Linked DNA regions of Homo sapiens: regions 1 and 2 are each linked to region 3. Evidence: fine-mapped expression QTL. A gene starts in region 3. Each other region holds a variant in brackets. All regions are shown on one strand. Distances are between the middles of the regions. Region 1 overlaps OSBPL9 (oxysterol binding protein like 9). Region 2 overlaps OSBPL9 (oxysterol binding protein like 9). Region 3 holds the start of OSBPL9 (oxysterol binding protein like 9).

The links. PIP is the estimated chance that this variant, and not a neighbour inherited with it, causes the effect. A credible set is the group of variants that fine-mapping cannot tell apart.
Region 1: its variant is the best candidate, but not a certain one, in a credible set for the expression of OSBPL9 in whole blood (INTERVAL, PIP 0.82).
Region 2: its variant is the best candidate, but not a certain one, in a credible set for the expression of OSBPL9 in esophagus muscle (GTEx, PIP 0.68).

Annotation. Positions count from the first base shown.
Region 1 is chr1:51,785,750-51,789,967 of GRCh38, reverse strand. OSBPL9 (oxysterol binding protein like 9) reads right to left here. Exons shown (of 24, transcript NM_024586.6): 21 at 4,082-4,160; 22 at 3,351-3,442; 23 at 2,480-2,615; 24 at 749-2,253. The coding sequence ends at 2,179. It overlaps NRDC (nardilysin convertase), which reads left to right. Exons shown (of 31, transcript NM_001101662.2): 30 at 311-400; 31 at 535-758. The coding sequence ends at 732. Among named protein-coding and RNA genes, the nearest start is that of MIR761, 49 kb to the left of the region's middle. RefSeq lists silencers at 1,145-1,345, 2,825-3,025. The variant C/T (reference allele first, on the strand shown) is at 1,776.
Region 2 is chr1:51,747,725-51,751,969 of GRCh38, reverse strand. It overlaps OSBPL9 (oxysterol binding protein like 9), which reads right to left. Exons shown (of 24, transcript NM_024586.6): 7 at 3,572-3,601; 8 at 1,775-1,825. Among named protein-coding and RNA genes, the nearest start is that of MIR761, 87 kb to the left of the region's middle. The variant C/T (reference allele first, on the strand shown) is at 2,190.
Region 3 is chr1:51,615,133-51,619,377 of GRCh38, reverse strand. It overlaps OSBPL9 (oxysterol binding protein like 9), which reads right to left and starts at 2,286. Exons shown (of 24, transcript NM_024586.6): 1 at 2,157-2,286. The coding sequence starts at 2,267. It overlaps LOC105378719 (a long non-coding RNA gene), which reads left to right. Exons shown (of 3, transcript XR_947339.4): 2 at 2,668-2,711. RefSeq lists enhancers at 773-1,680, 1,681-2,589.

The sequences.
Region 1 (4,218 bases), 170 kb before region 3:
ATGCAGCTACCATGTAATTGGGAGGTGACACTAAGGGGATGTGGGTGTTGGGCTCAGTGTATGGTATTTAGCTGTAATTATAGCATCTGCTAACCTCTCTTGCCATTGTAGATGATTGGTATAAAATGTGAAGGCATGCCAGAGAGCTTCATCATCGTTTTGGTCTGGAAGGTTAGGGGTAACCTGAGAATAGGAAGAATAAAATGAGGTCTTCAGATGCTAAGCAGGTCCAGGGACATCTGCCTGGGGGTTAGGTTTAAGAGCTATCTTTCTTCTTGAATTTCTTTCCTATCTTCCCTTCCCTTGTAAGATTGAAGCACTGAAGTCATTCTCAAAATCAGACCTGGTCAACTGGTTCAAGGCCCATAGAGGGCCAGGAAGTAAAATGCTCAGCGTTCATGTGAGTATGTTTAACTAACTCCATCCATTCTAGGGTTGTCATTTACTGAGTGAGTTTGGGTGGTTATCATCAGAACTCTTAAACCCCTAAATCTGGTCAGCATATTTTTCACTTTTGTCTTTGTCCTCTTTCAGGTTGTTGGATATGGGAAGTATGAACTGGAAGAGGATGGTACCCCTTCTAGTGAGGATTCAAATTCTTCTTGTGAAGTGATGCAGCTGACCTACCTGCCAACCTCTCCTCTGCTGGCAGATTGTATCATCCCCATTACTGATATCAGGGCTTTCACAACAACACTCAACCTTCTCCCCTACCATAAAATAGTCAAATAAATAAACTGCAGTCACGTTGGCCTGAAGCAATGTGTATTTTAAAATGTGTTTGTTTGTATTTTATGGAGTTAGTTATACTACTGCCTTAGGGCTTCCATTGAAGTTTTGCACTGGCATCATAGCATTTGATTTACTTTTTATCCTTTGTTGAGACTAATAAACCCAGGGTTACTGTAGGAGCTGGCAAAGGAAAATTAGCAGAATGGGCCAAGCGAGACCAGAAAGCCTGCAGCAGCACTTTGAGAAGCCCTGGCCTGTGTCCTCTCAGACTGAGAATCTACTTCTTGAAAGGCCTTACGTAACCAGTATATTGAATAACTAACTAAATGCTAGGTACTAATACCTGTTTTTTTAATGTATTTTTAAATAAAAAAGATGATAGATAGATAGATAGATATAGTTCTGTATTTCCCTTCAGAATGAGCCATCTGCTGCTGTGGCATTCATTTTATTCTATCTATCTATCTATTTTTGTTCACTGTGGGGTGGGGATCTATAAATACACACTCTTCCCAAACCCTCTAAGGCAATAAAACATTTTTGGATAAAATGTTGGTAGGCAGCCCTACATGTGCAATATGAGTTAAGTGAAGATTCTGGGGAATTGCCTGGCAGGGGCTAAAGACAGAACATACAATCTGACAGAGGAAAAGAATGGATCCTCCATTATTTCAAGTGTCTTTCTTTGAAAAGCTAGCTCTTGTATTCAAGGTTGCCAAATAATTGGCTTCCAAGTTTAACCATAAAAGATAATAAAAGATGCACATTTTTAAAAAAAAGGTTGGAAAAATTACTTTATGAAGCCTTAAGCACTAAGAATAATTAATTAAACTGTAATCCAGGATTAGATACAATTTAATAATAGTTCAATTCCAAAATAAAAGTTATTGTAGGTAAGACCATGAAATTTCCTAACACTTGATTTTAATACATTGCGCTAATTTTCTAAAACAACTCAGAGGAACCCATATTTACAGTAGGCAGAATATTTATGAAAAAAATCTGGCATCAGGTATATTTATATATATGTATGTGTGTGTATA[C/T]GTATGTGTGTGTATATATATGTGTGTGTGTGTGTGTATCCCGAGATTATATGAACTAAGAAACAAGTTGTGTATCTTAACAGCAGTACTAGAGCGCAGAGTTTCAGACTTGGATTTATAAATGCTTTCAACGTGTGGTGTTTGGAAAAGGAGAAGACATCATCTGATTTTCAAAACCTGAAGTTTTTCTCAGGACTGAAGTCAAAATCGTAACTGCCACAGAGGGAAAAGGGAAGCTTTTCCCCTTAATTGTTCATCTGCGTCAGAAAGTCCAGTATCCCTGAGATAGGAACCACTGTAATTAGAAGATTGGAATGAACAGGTTTCTCCCAAAGGAAGATTGTTTGTTGCTGAATTATGCCTACTGCCCTGATCATCAGGTATAAACTTTGCATCTTCCAACCTAATGCTTGGCAGCACCAAGACGTTTCAGTAATGGTTCATCATAAACCCAGCATTCTCCATCTTCATGAAATAACTGTAAGACAAAGAGGAAGAATTTAGTTACATATTTGCTTTGTACTTCTGTAATATACTTACTATTTCATATCTGCTCCCCACCCCGCCATTAGACTGAAATGAGTTTCAAGTAGGGACCAGCGATCATCTTGTTTATAAACAGTGTTTGGCACATCACTTCTTCAACATTCACTGAAATAAATTAGGAGGAACAGCACTTAGGAGGGTGGGGCAGGCAAGCTTACCCTTGTCTCCCACTGAATTTCCTTCTCCTTCCTTTCTCGGGCTTCTGCTCTTTGTCTTTCTTCAAGCCTGTGCTTTGCTTCAGTTGCTGCATCAATGTCTCTGATTTTTAAGTTGAAAGTGACATCCTTCCAAAGGCTAAAACAAAGAGGTAAGAGGAGCTGCCAATGTTGAGAATGAAAGCCTGCAGCCATCCTGAATATAGTATAATACAAGTCAAATGGCTTTAAGTGCTGTAGGTCACAGACTAAATCTCCTTACGCTGGCACCAGGGCACTGGAGTAAGGAACAGACATATGGGCTCAGAAGACTCCACTGCTAGTTGTCAAAGAAGGAAATAAGGGCTGCCTGATAGTATGATAAGGTCAACAGAAGAAAAAGAATAGTGGAAGCTGAGACCTGGGATTCTACTTCTGGCTCTATGTCTAACTTACTGTGCAACTCTGGGTCAATCAGTTTACCTCTGTAGGGCTTGAGTGTCCCTTAATATATACCTGTAAGTGTTAGAGGAACTGAGAAGTTCCATTTCAGAAAAACTCCCTTGGATTTAACAATATGATGGAGAAAATAGTATGAATGGAGAGAATAAGGGTCAAGAAGTAAATTACAGAGGCTTTAAAGTTAGTTAAGATGTGGCTTCCTCTCAAGGCCTTTATTCTCATTTCAGGAAAGAAGGTAAAGAGAAGTTAGCTGACTGAGCCATCCATGGTCACAAAGGTAGTAAGTGGTAGTTCTGACATACGAACCCAGGAATTCAAACTTGGTCTATACTATTATGCTCTGCCCTACTGTCTCTCAAACCCAGCCCTGTGCCTACGCCTAGGCAAAGTTTAAGCACTGCAGCAATAGTTCCACTTAACAATGTCGGCTTACCTGCGGGATTCATACTCGTTCTGATCTTCCAACTTCCTCACTTTCTTCTTGATTATAGGCAACTTCTTGGTATCTACAAAGACTGTATTTTCCTAGAAAACAATAGAGGTGGATGGGAACTAGACCCATAAACCCCTAACCTAATGTTAGATGCATTGTAGTGCTTTTGACACTTCAAATTCTCTAGGTCCAAAATGCAGTTAACTGGCTCCTCCTGTTAATTTCATAACATCTTTCCTCTGTTTAAGAACACTGAGTGGGCAGTAGTACAGAGTGCAAGTTCTTTGAAGGAAAGGTCTATCTTAACTCATTTTGGTATCTCTGGTGCCAGGCAGTCAGTAAATTTTATTATACAAAATCTTCAACTGTGTGTGTATGGAAACACACAGTTTAGTGCTTCATTTTATAAACATACGCCACATACCTAACATTTACTGGGTTCTTACTATGTGCCAGGCATTGTTTTACATATATTATTCTCAAGTGTTTTGAGAGCAGAGAGAAAAGTAAAAATGATTATAATTACCTATACTGCTGGGAGAAGGTGGGGGAAGGAAAGAAAAAGCTTGCCCTGAAGAGATGACATACACTGGAGCTGTCCTAAAGTTCCAGCTCTAATATACTGTAGAAGGAAATGCATTATGAAGGAAGTACTAATGAAGGAAGCCAGAAAAAGGGATAGAGTACAATCTAATGTAGCCTAAAACAAGTGGCAAAATAGAGGATCTTACCCCTGTTGCATATTTTGCATACATCACACCATTCCATTCCCCTTCAATTGAGCAAAAAGACTTCTTGTCATTTGGAGAACTGAACAGAAAAGGAAATACTTGTGTTAGTCTCAAGTTGAAAATTCTACCAAAGAATC
Region 2 (4,245 bases), 130 kb before region 3:
AAAACTTCCTTCTGGAATAAATAAAAGGCCAAATTTCATTTACGTGATCCAAGTTATCCATTGCGAAGAACCCTAAAACGTAGTTTTATTAAGCTGGGCTAACACAGACAGGTAGCAAGTACAAATTACACTAAAAATGTTCTCGATGAGTGGCTAAACAGTGAGCTACTGAAATAGGCTAGGCTGACCTACTGTACAACTATCTAAAGTCCTGAATGATTTTCAGAGATCACCCAAACTGGCTTAAACACTGTATCAGCTCCTCTGCTTCCCCAATCTTCAATAGAAGGCAGTATGTATTCCCTAAAATACCTAGTCACTCAAACAGGGCATGGTGTGGTTTACTGGTTATCTGTAGGTAAGCTTTTGGATAACTATAGGTGCTTCTACTCACCTATGTAATTCCAGAGCCAAGAAAAACTAAAATAAAAACTTTATCTCTTTTGTGCCTCCAATCCTATCTTTCCTTCTGCTTGGCTTTGGAATATACTATGATCTACAACAGGAAATGAAAAATTTAGACACATACATAGGAAATCTAGATATCACTAACATCTAGAAACAGAACATAAGCCCTAAGTTCTGACACTTTAAGTATAATACATTGGGCTGGGTTTGGTAGCTCACGCCTGTAATCCCAGCACTTTGGGAGGCCAGGAGTTCAGACCAGCCTGGGTAACATGGTGAAACCCCCATCTCTACTAAAAATATAAGAATTAGCCAGGCGTGGTGGTGCATGCCTGTAACCTCGCTACTCAGGAGGCTGAGGCACGAGAATCAGTTGCACCCAGGAGGCAGAGGTTGCAGTGAGCTGAGATTGTGCCACTGCACTCCAGCCTGGGCAACAGAGCGAGACTGTCTCAAAAAATAAAAAATATATTTTAAATCAGGCCTCAAAAGAAAATGACATTGCCCCATTTAATTTATAAGCTAAATATCCTTACTATCCAAATGCAAATGGACTGTCCTATGCTATTGTGTCATTAACAACAGTAGGTTAAAAGTCTCTATGATTTGGCAAACAAACATATGCAACTGAAGAAGTAAAAGAGATGAGTAATTATAAACTCATTCAAACAACATTTCTCAACTGGGCTGTGGAGCTGGTCACCCACCCCTTGCTAGCCACTTGCTGGAAATAAAGGGGTGTAGTGAGGTAGAAATAGTTTTAAAAATTCCTATTCTCAAACAATAATATTCTTATTTCAGAAACTCTCAGGCAATAAAATATATATTTAGGTTGAATACACCAAAATTTTTCAGAAAAAGAGACAACATATATGAAATTTTTAACCCACAATAATTCAAAATATATTTTGTTTCATGAATAAGGAAGAATAATTAAAATCCACTAACGTAGTTCACTACCAGAAAAAAATCCGTAAAAATTTAAAAAATATATCTCTATTATATTCTTCATTATGGACAATAACTGTCAGAACTTACTTCTCTATTTTCTAAGAAAAACTTTTTTTGTGGAAGGTTTTGTAAAATATGTCCCTGTTCTAAGCAGTGATAATGGATAAAATGGAAGGAAGGGATGAGTCATTCAAACATGCTCCCCTCCTTCCCAGCTACCAGAAATGACATTACCAGAAACAGTAGCTAAGATAATAGCCAAACACAACAGTTGTTCCATAGAATAAGCTCACAATACAGTTTAATGTAGAAAGGTACTATGTTTCAGATCTGAGTTTTTTTGCTATTAAAGAAAAACGCCATTATAATTTTTGAACTCCATACACAAAGGTAATTGAAAGTAAAATTTACTTACTTTGGCAATCTGCAGCAACACAATGCAGTGTTTAATTGATTCTACCATGCTCTATAAAAACAAAACACTGATTTTAGGATCTTGGCTCAAATAAATGGATATATAATGTTAAAGCTTAAAATATAAAAATCAGTTCAGATGTATAGAGTTTAAGTCTATACTACACAAGAAATATCCTCTTTGGATCTAGTGGGTTCTAGTATGCTGATAATGCCAAATGAAGTTATTCATTAGCAGTTCTATGAATTTTAACGAATGCCACAAATTGTTAATTTATACTAAATAATATCTAATTTTTTTTTCTTTTTTTTTTTTTTTAAGAGACAAGGTCTCACTATGCTGATCACGCTGGATTGCAGTGGCTATTCACAGGCACAATTATAGCACACTGCAGCCTCAAACTCAGAGGCTCAAG[C/T]GATCCCCGTCTCAGCCTCCCGAGTAGCTGGCACTACATGCACATGCCACCGTGCTTGGCTCTAAATGGTTTTTCAACACTTCAAACAGAAAGACATACGAATCTGATTAACTTACGAATTCTTACATCAACAGCAAGCAACCCTAAGAAATCTACCTAAGACACTGATAGGCTGGGTATGGTGATTCACACCTGTAATCCCACTGCTTTGGTAGGCCAAGGAAGGAGGATCGCTTGAGGCTAGGAGACCAGCCTAGGCAACATAGCAGAATCCCATCTCTATAAAAAATTAAAATAAAAATTAGCTGTGTGTGGTAGCGTGTGCCTATAGCCCTAGCTACTCAAATGGCTGAAGCAGGAGGATTGTCTGAGCCCAGGAGTTCGAAGCTGCAGTGAGCTATGACTGCACCATTGTACTCCAGCCTGGATGACACAGCAAGACCCTGTTTCTTAAAAAAAAATAAAAAGACTTTGATGGAAGTATGGAGAATAAAGGATCCTGTCAAAACACTGGTGAATCAAATTATTATTTTACCTGTTTTAAAATTTTGAGCAAGGTACACATCTCATAAGTAGCCCATTATATAATGTCAGAAGTCCACTATATCAGAAAACTTGAATTATAATATATTTTAATAAGAAAGAAGCCAGCTGCAGTGGCTCATGCCTATAATCCCATCACTTTTTTTTTTTTTGAGACACAGTTTCGCTCTTGTTGCCCAGGCTGGAGTGCAATGGCACGATCTCAACTCACTGCAACTTCTGCCTCCCCAGTTCAAGCGATTCTCCTGTCTCAGCCTCCAGAGTAGCTAGGATTACAGGCATAAGCCACCACGCCTGGATAATTTTGTATTTTTAGTAGAGATGGGGTTTATCCATGTTGGTCAGTCTGGTCTGGAACTCCCAACCTCAGGTGATCCGCCCACCTCGGCCTCCCAAAGTGCTGGGATTACAGGTGTGAGCCACCGCGCCCGGCCAATCCCACCACTTTTGAAGGCTGAGGCAGGAGGATCGCTTGAGCCCAGGAGTTGAGACCTGGACAACATAGTAAGACCCTGCCTTAAGAATCAAAGAAATTAATTATTTTTTTTAAAATATGAAATAACATATCCACTGTGCGTGGAAGACACCTTTTATCAAGATTTCAAACGAGACCAGAAACAGGTAAATGGTACATGAAGTCAATTTCGATTAAGGGGCTTATTCTATTAGTATTATTTTAAATTCCTTTAAAAAAAAATACAATGCTTAAGCACCCCTGTATAATATTCATAAAAACTAACATCTCAATTGCTGTCATCAATAGTGGCAGCTTAAAATAGAAATAACTTTTTAAAACATTTTCTAATGCAAAGTCAGAATGTATCAAACATATAACTTACATTTGTTGTCTCTTTGAGAGTTTCAATTTTCTGTGAAAAATAATAAGTTTAAACAGAAATAATCAGAAGCACAAAGAAGGACGGTTATTTTTTACTGGCTAGTCATTTAAAGAATTTTACCAAAATGTACTCATTCTAAGTGAGTACAAGCAAGTTGGGAAGGGAGTACTTTTTGTTGTATTTTGTTTTTTATCTAAATCAATTATTTGTATAAAAATTCCAGACTTTTATGAATTATATGTTCTCTTTAATAAAATTCACGTGATTCAATTTAAGGTTTGTAAGAATAATATAAAACATTCTTATTCCTGGCTGGGCACGGTGGCTTGAGCCGGTAATCCCAGCACTTTGGGAGGCCGAGGTGGGCGGATCATGAGGTCAGGAGATCGAGACCATCCTGGCTAACATGGTGAAACCCCACCTCTACTAAAAATACAAAAAATTAGCTGGGCGTGGTGGCAGGCACCTGTAGTCCCACCTACTTGGGAGGCTGAGGCAGGAGAATGGCGTGAACCTGGGAGGCAGAGCTTGCAGTGAGCCGAGATCACGCCACTGCACTCCAGCCTGGGCGACAGAGCAAGATTCCATCTCAAAACAAAACAAAAAACAACAACAAAAAATTCTTATTCCTTACCTGAAAGCAAGTTTTGGCTTTTCTACGAATTTCACTTATT
Region 3 (4,245 bases):
GCAGAAAAAGGATACATGAAAAGAAGAAAAAGAGGAAAAAGGAAGATTCTTTCTGGGCTAGGCATTCCCAAGAACCTCAGCTGGGGGCCTCTCCAGTATGGTCCTAGATTCAGATCCACACAAATTTGGGATTTGTAAAGTAACTTAACTGCATAGTGTCACTCACTGAAATCACTCTATCTTGAATAGAGTTTACGGGATTTTCTGATTATCACATCTACTTAAACCCAATATTACTTTTCCTTTATCTAAGCCATGGGTTTCATAATTCCAGAGTTTTCAGGACATAATATTCAGTTGCCTCTCTTTCATGCCCACCTAAAGACAATCTTGAACAATGTGTTTAAGACTCATTAAGGTTTAGTCTTTTTCCCTTTAAAAACTATGTAGAGAAAGAAAGCTGATAGTTGAAGGATGATGAAAGTAATACTTTTACTCTTGCAAGCTTGCCTTTAGTAACTCACAACTTACACTTTTCTCCTTCCTGTAGTGAAAGCGAAGTTTAGTAGAAAAAGTCAATAATTTGGCATCCTGATTCCATCACTTAGTGCTATGTGATGTTGAGCAAATTGCTTTAAAAGCCTGGAGCCTCAGATTTCAAAACTGTAACTGGGGATATTAAATGGAGATAATGAATAACCACCTTGCAGAGTTATTAGGAGTGAAATGAATTAAAGGACTCACCAAGCTAGTATATAAGCTCCAGAGAAGAGGAACAGTGAATGTCTTTTTTACTGTCTATTCTTGCTGGCATGAAAACGCACATAGCAGCTCAATAATATTTTTTAAATGAACAAATAAATTCAGTGTCCCCTTTCTCTCATCAACCTTAATCCTTCTTCCATAATCATGTTTTTCTTTCTGTCTTCTATTATTTTCTAAAGCTTTCTGGGCATTCTATTTTGTCCTCTTATGTATTTTCTTCCCTCATATCGGCTATCGTCAACTATACACCATTCAGAGAAAGTACCTTTCTAAGTAAGTTATCTCCCTAATACCACCTACTCTCCATATCGAATGCGATGAGGGTGGAGGGGATAGTCAAAACATAAGATTCAAGGCCGGACGCGGTGGCTCACGTCTGTAATCCCAGTACTTTGGGAGGCCGAGGCGGGTGGATCACCTGAGGTCAGGAGTTCAAGACCAGCCTGGCCAACATGGTGAAACCCCGTCTCTACTAAAAATACAAGAATTAGCAGGGTGTGGTGGCGCATGCCTGTGATCCCAGCTACTAGGGAGGCCAGAGGCAGGAGAATCGCTTGAACCCGAGAGGCAGAAGTTGCAGTGAGCCGAGATGATGCCATTGCACGCCAGCCTGGGCAACAGGGCGAGACTCCGTCTCAAAAAAAAAACCACACACACACACACACACACACACACAACCACGTAAGATTCACAGCAATTCATCTACTTTTCCACGGCCACCAACTCATGTTAACAACAGTGAAGCCCTGAACCCAGAATGTAACTGTAAGGGGACACTGCACTATCACTTGTCTCTCTTCGCTGACAAGAGTCTCGCGTGTAGGAAATCCTTGGCTCTCAAAAGTTAAGGCGTCGTTTGAGCTCGCCTCCCGCTAAATAGAGGGGTGCGTCCCTTGAATGAGACACACAACCTGAACCGACTGGAGGGATTTCGGACCCCCTGGTGTTGCCCGAGGGCTGGTCACTTTTGGACCTGTCCCGGCTCCTCTGGCCACTCCTCCGAGGAAGCAGAGCTCTTCAATCCCTGGAGGGAAGCTAAGGGGTGCGGCCGGCTACAGGGCCTTGGTGGGACAGTGTAAAGTCCATGACAACATATGAAGACAGCATGAACCGCAAGACTGGACCTTTTAAGCCATGACTACGATCACCCTTACCCGCTCACAACCATGCTGGACCCCACTACCGCTTAATAGCGGACCCTAAGAAAGAAACTTGGCTCACCCCCAACCCATAAATCAGACAGCTAGTTTCTATTTATTGGCTGCGCCCCTCTCTCCCTCACCCTCATTGGCTATCCGAGACGTAAAACCCTCCCCAACAAGGGAACCCTCGCGTACGGCGGCACCCCCAGACTAGCAACCTCAACTCAGCCACCTAAAACCCCGGTCCCCCACCTCCACCCAGGAAACGCGGCCCCGAGGCGCCTGGAGCTGTGCCCTCCAAGGACTCACCGTGTAGTAGGAGAGCAGTCCTGCATTGTAGTCCAGCACGAACCAACGGTACTGCCAGCCCTTCATCACGTTAGTCCATTTGCTCAGCGGCCCTTCCATGATGGACGCCATCTTGGGAGCCGCCAATGACAACAAACGGCCTGACGTCACTCGCCTATATGGCATTCAGCATGCGGGGGGCGGGGCCGCAGGGGGCGGGGCGGGTCCTGGGCGGGTCCTGGGCGGTGCCGGCAGATGCTCCAGCGATCAAGTCAAACACGCTTTCTTAGGGCGCCTATTGTGTGTAGGACTCCATGCCACGGATGCGAGAATGCAAACGTGAATACTGCTATTAAGATTATTTATAATCTGTCATGGGATTAGAGTAAAGAAAAAAGATTATGAACATATTAATAAATAATTTTACTGGCCATGATACCTTCCACTTCCAAAAGATTTCATATCTGATATTCATTTATGCATTCATTCCACAAATCCATTCATTTAATAAATATTCGCTGTTTTGTGCTAGGCATTCTTCTAGACATTGGGGATACAACAGAGCCTTCATGACAGGTGAGGGGAATGGTAAAATAAATAGTAAATTATATCGTACATTAAAAAATCATAAATGCTATGGAGAAAAACATAAGCAAGGAAGGAGAGAGCGCTGGGACTGCTATTTTAAATTCCCAAACAGGGAAGGCCTGAGTGAAAAGGTAACTTTTAAGCAAAGACCTGAAGAAAGCGAAGGAGGGAGCCTGGTGGAAGAGCCTTCCAAGACGAAGGAATAGCAAATGCAAAGACCAAATGTTAGGAGTGAGCGTGGCATCTTGAGGGATCAACAAGGAGGTCAGTGTGCGTGGAGCAGTGAGCCAGGGAGAAAGTGGTGGGAGATAAGGTCAAAGAAGTAGGGATAGATCACTAACAGCCTACAGGGGCAATTTAAGCATTTATTGGCTGGGCGCGGTGGCTCGCACCTGTTATCCCAGCACTTTGGGTGGCCGAGGCAGGCAGATCACTTGAGATCAGGCGTTCGAGACCAGCCTGGCCAACATGGTAAAAGCCCATCTCTACTAAACATACAAAAATTATCTGGGCGTGGTGGCGCACCCTGTAGTCCTAGCTGAGGCACAAGAATCACTTGAACCTCGGAGCCGAGATTGCATCACTGCACTCCAGCCTGGGTGACAGAGCCAAATTCTCTCTCACACAAAAAAAAAAAAAAAAAAAAAAAAACCAAAGGATTTATTGACCACCTACTATATCTAGGCACTGTTGGAGGTCCTGGGAATACAGCAGTGAATAAGCTCTCTCAGAGCTTAAATTCTGTGGTGAAAGCAAACACTAAACAAGTAAACAAGAAAAATATCCAATACTGATTAACACTGCAAATAATTTAATAAATTATTTTAATAGGAAGTCAGTGGGTAGCTAATTTATAGGGGGTGGTTATAGGGCAGGCCTCTTAGGAAGTGGCTTTAAACTTAGATATGGAGGATAAGAAAAGGCCAGCCGTGCAAATATCAAGAGAAAGAGCTAAAAAGGAAACTAAAAGATGAGGCACTAGCTGGAAACGGAGGTGTGGTCAAGGGAAGGGCTTTCTTTGTCCTTTTTTAAAATTATTATTTAGATCGAAGACACTAGAGAATATTACTTTGCTGATTTTCAAGAGAGGGAAAAACTGGGGACATCCTAGAGAAAAGAGAGAATAGCAGCAGTGAAGCCCTTCATAAGATTGAGACCTCTTTTTGTGTTGGCAAAACACTGGAATAAAATACAAAAAAAGAAAGAAAGGAAAAGACTGAGACCCCAAGCCCAAGTGCAAAGGTTGACTTTTGATACTAGCAGAGATACTTTATCCAAAGTAACAAGAAAGAAGAGCAGAGAGTATGGGTTCAGATGCCAGTGGATCAGTAGTTAGATGGTATAGAAATGAATGAGTTTCTGTTTTTTTTGTTTGTTTTGTTTTGTTTTGTTTTGTTTTTTTGAGATGGAGTTTCACTCTTATCGCCCAGGCTGGAGAGCAGTGGCACGATCTCGGCTCACTGCAACCTCCACCTCCCAAGTTCAAGAGATTCTCTTGCCGCAGCCTCCCAAGTAGCTGGGA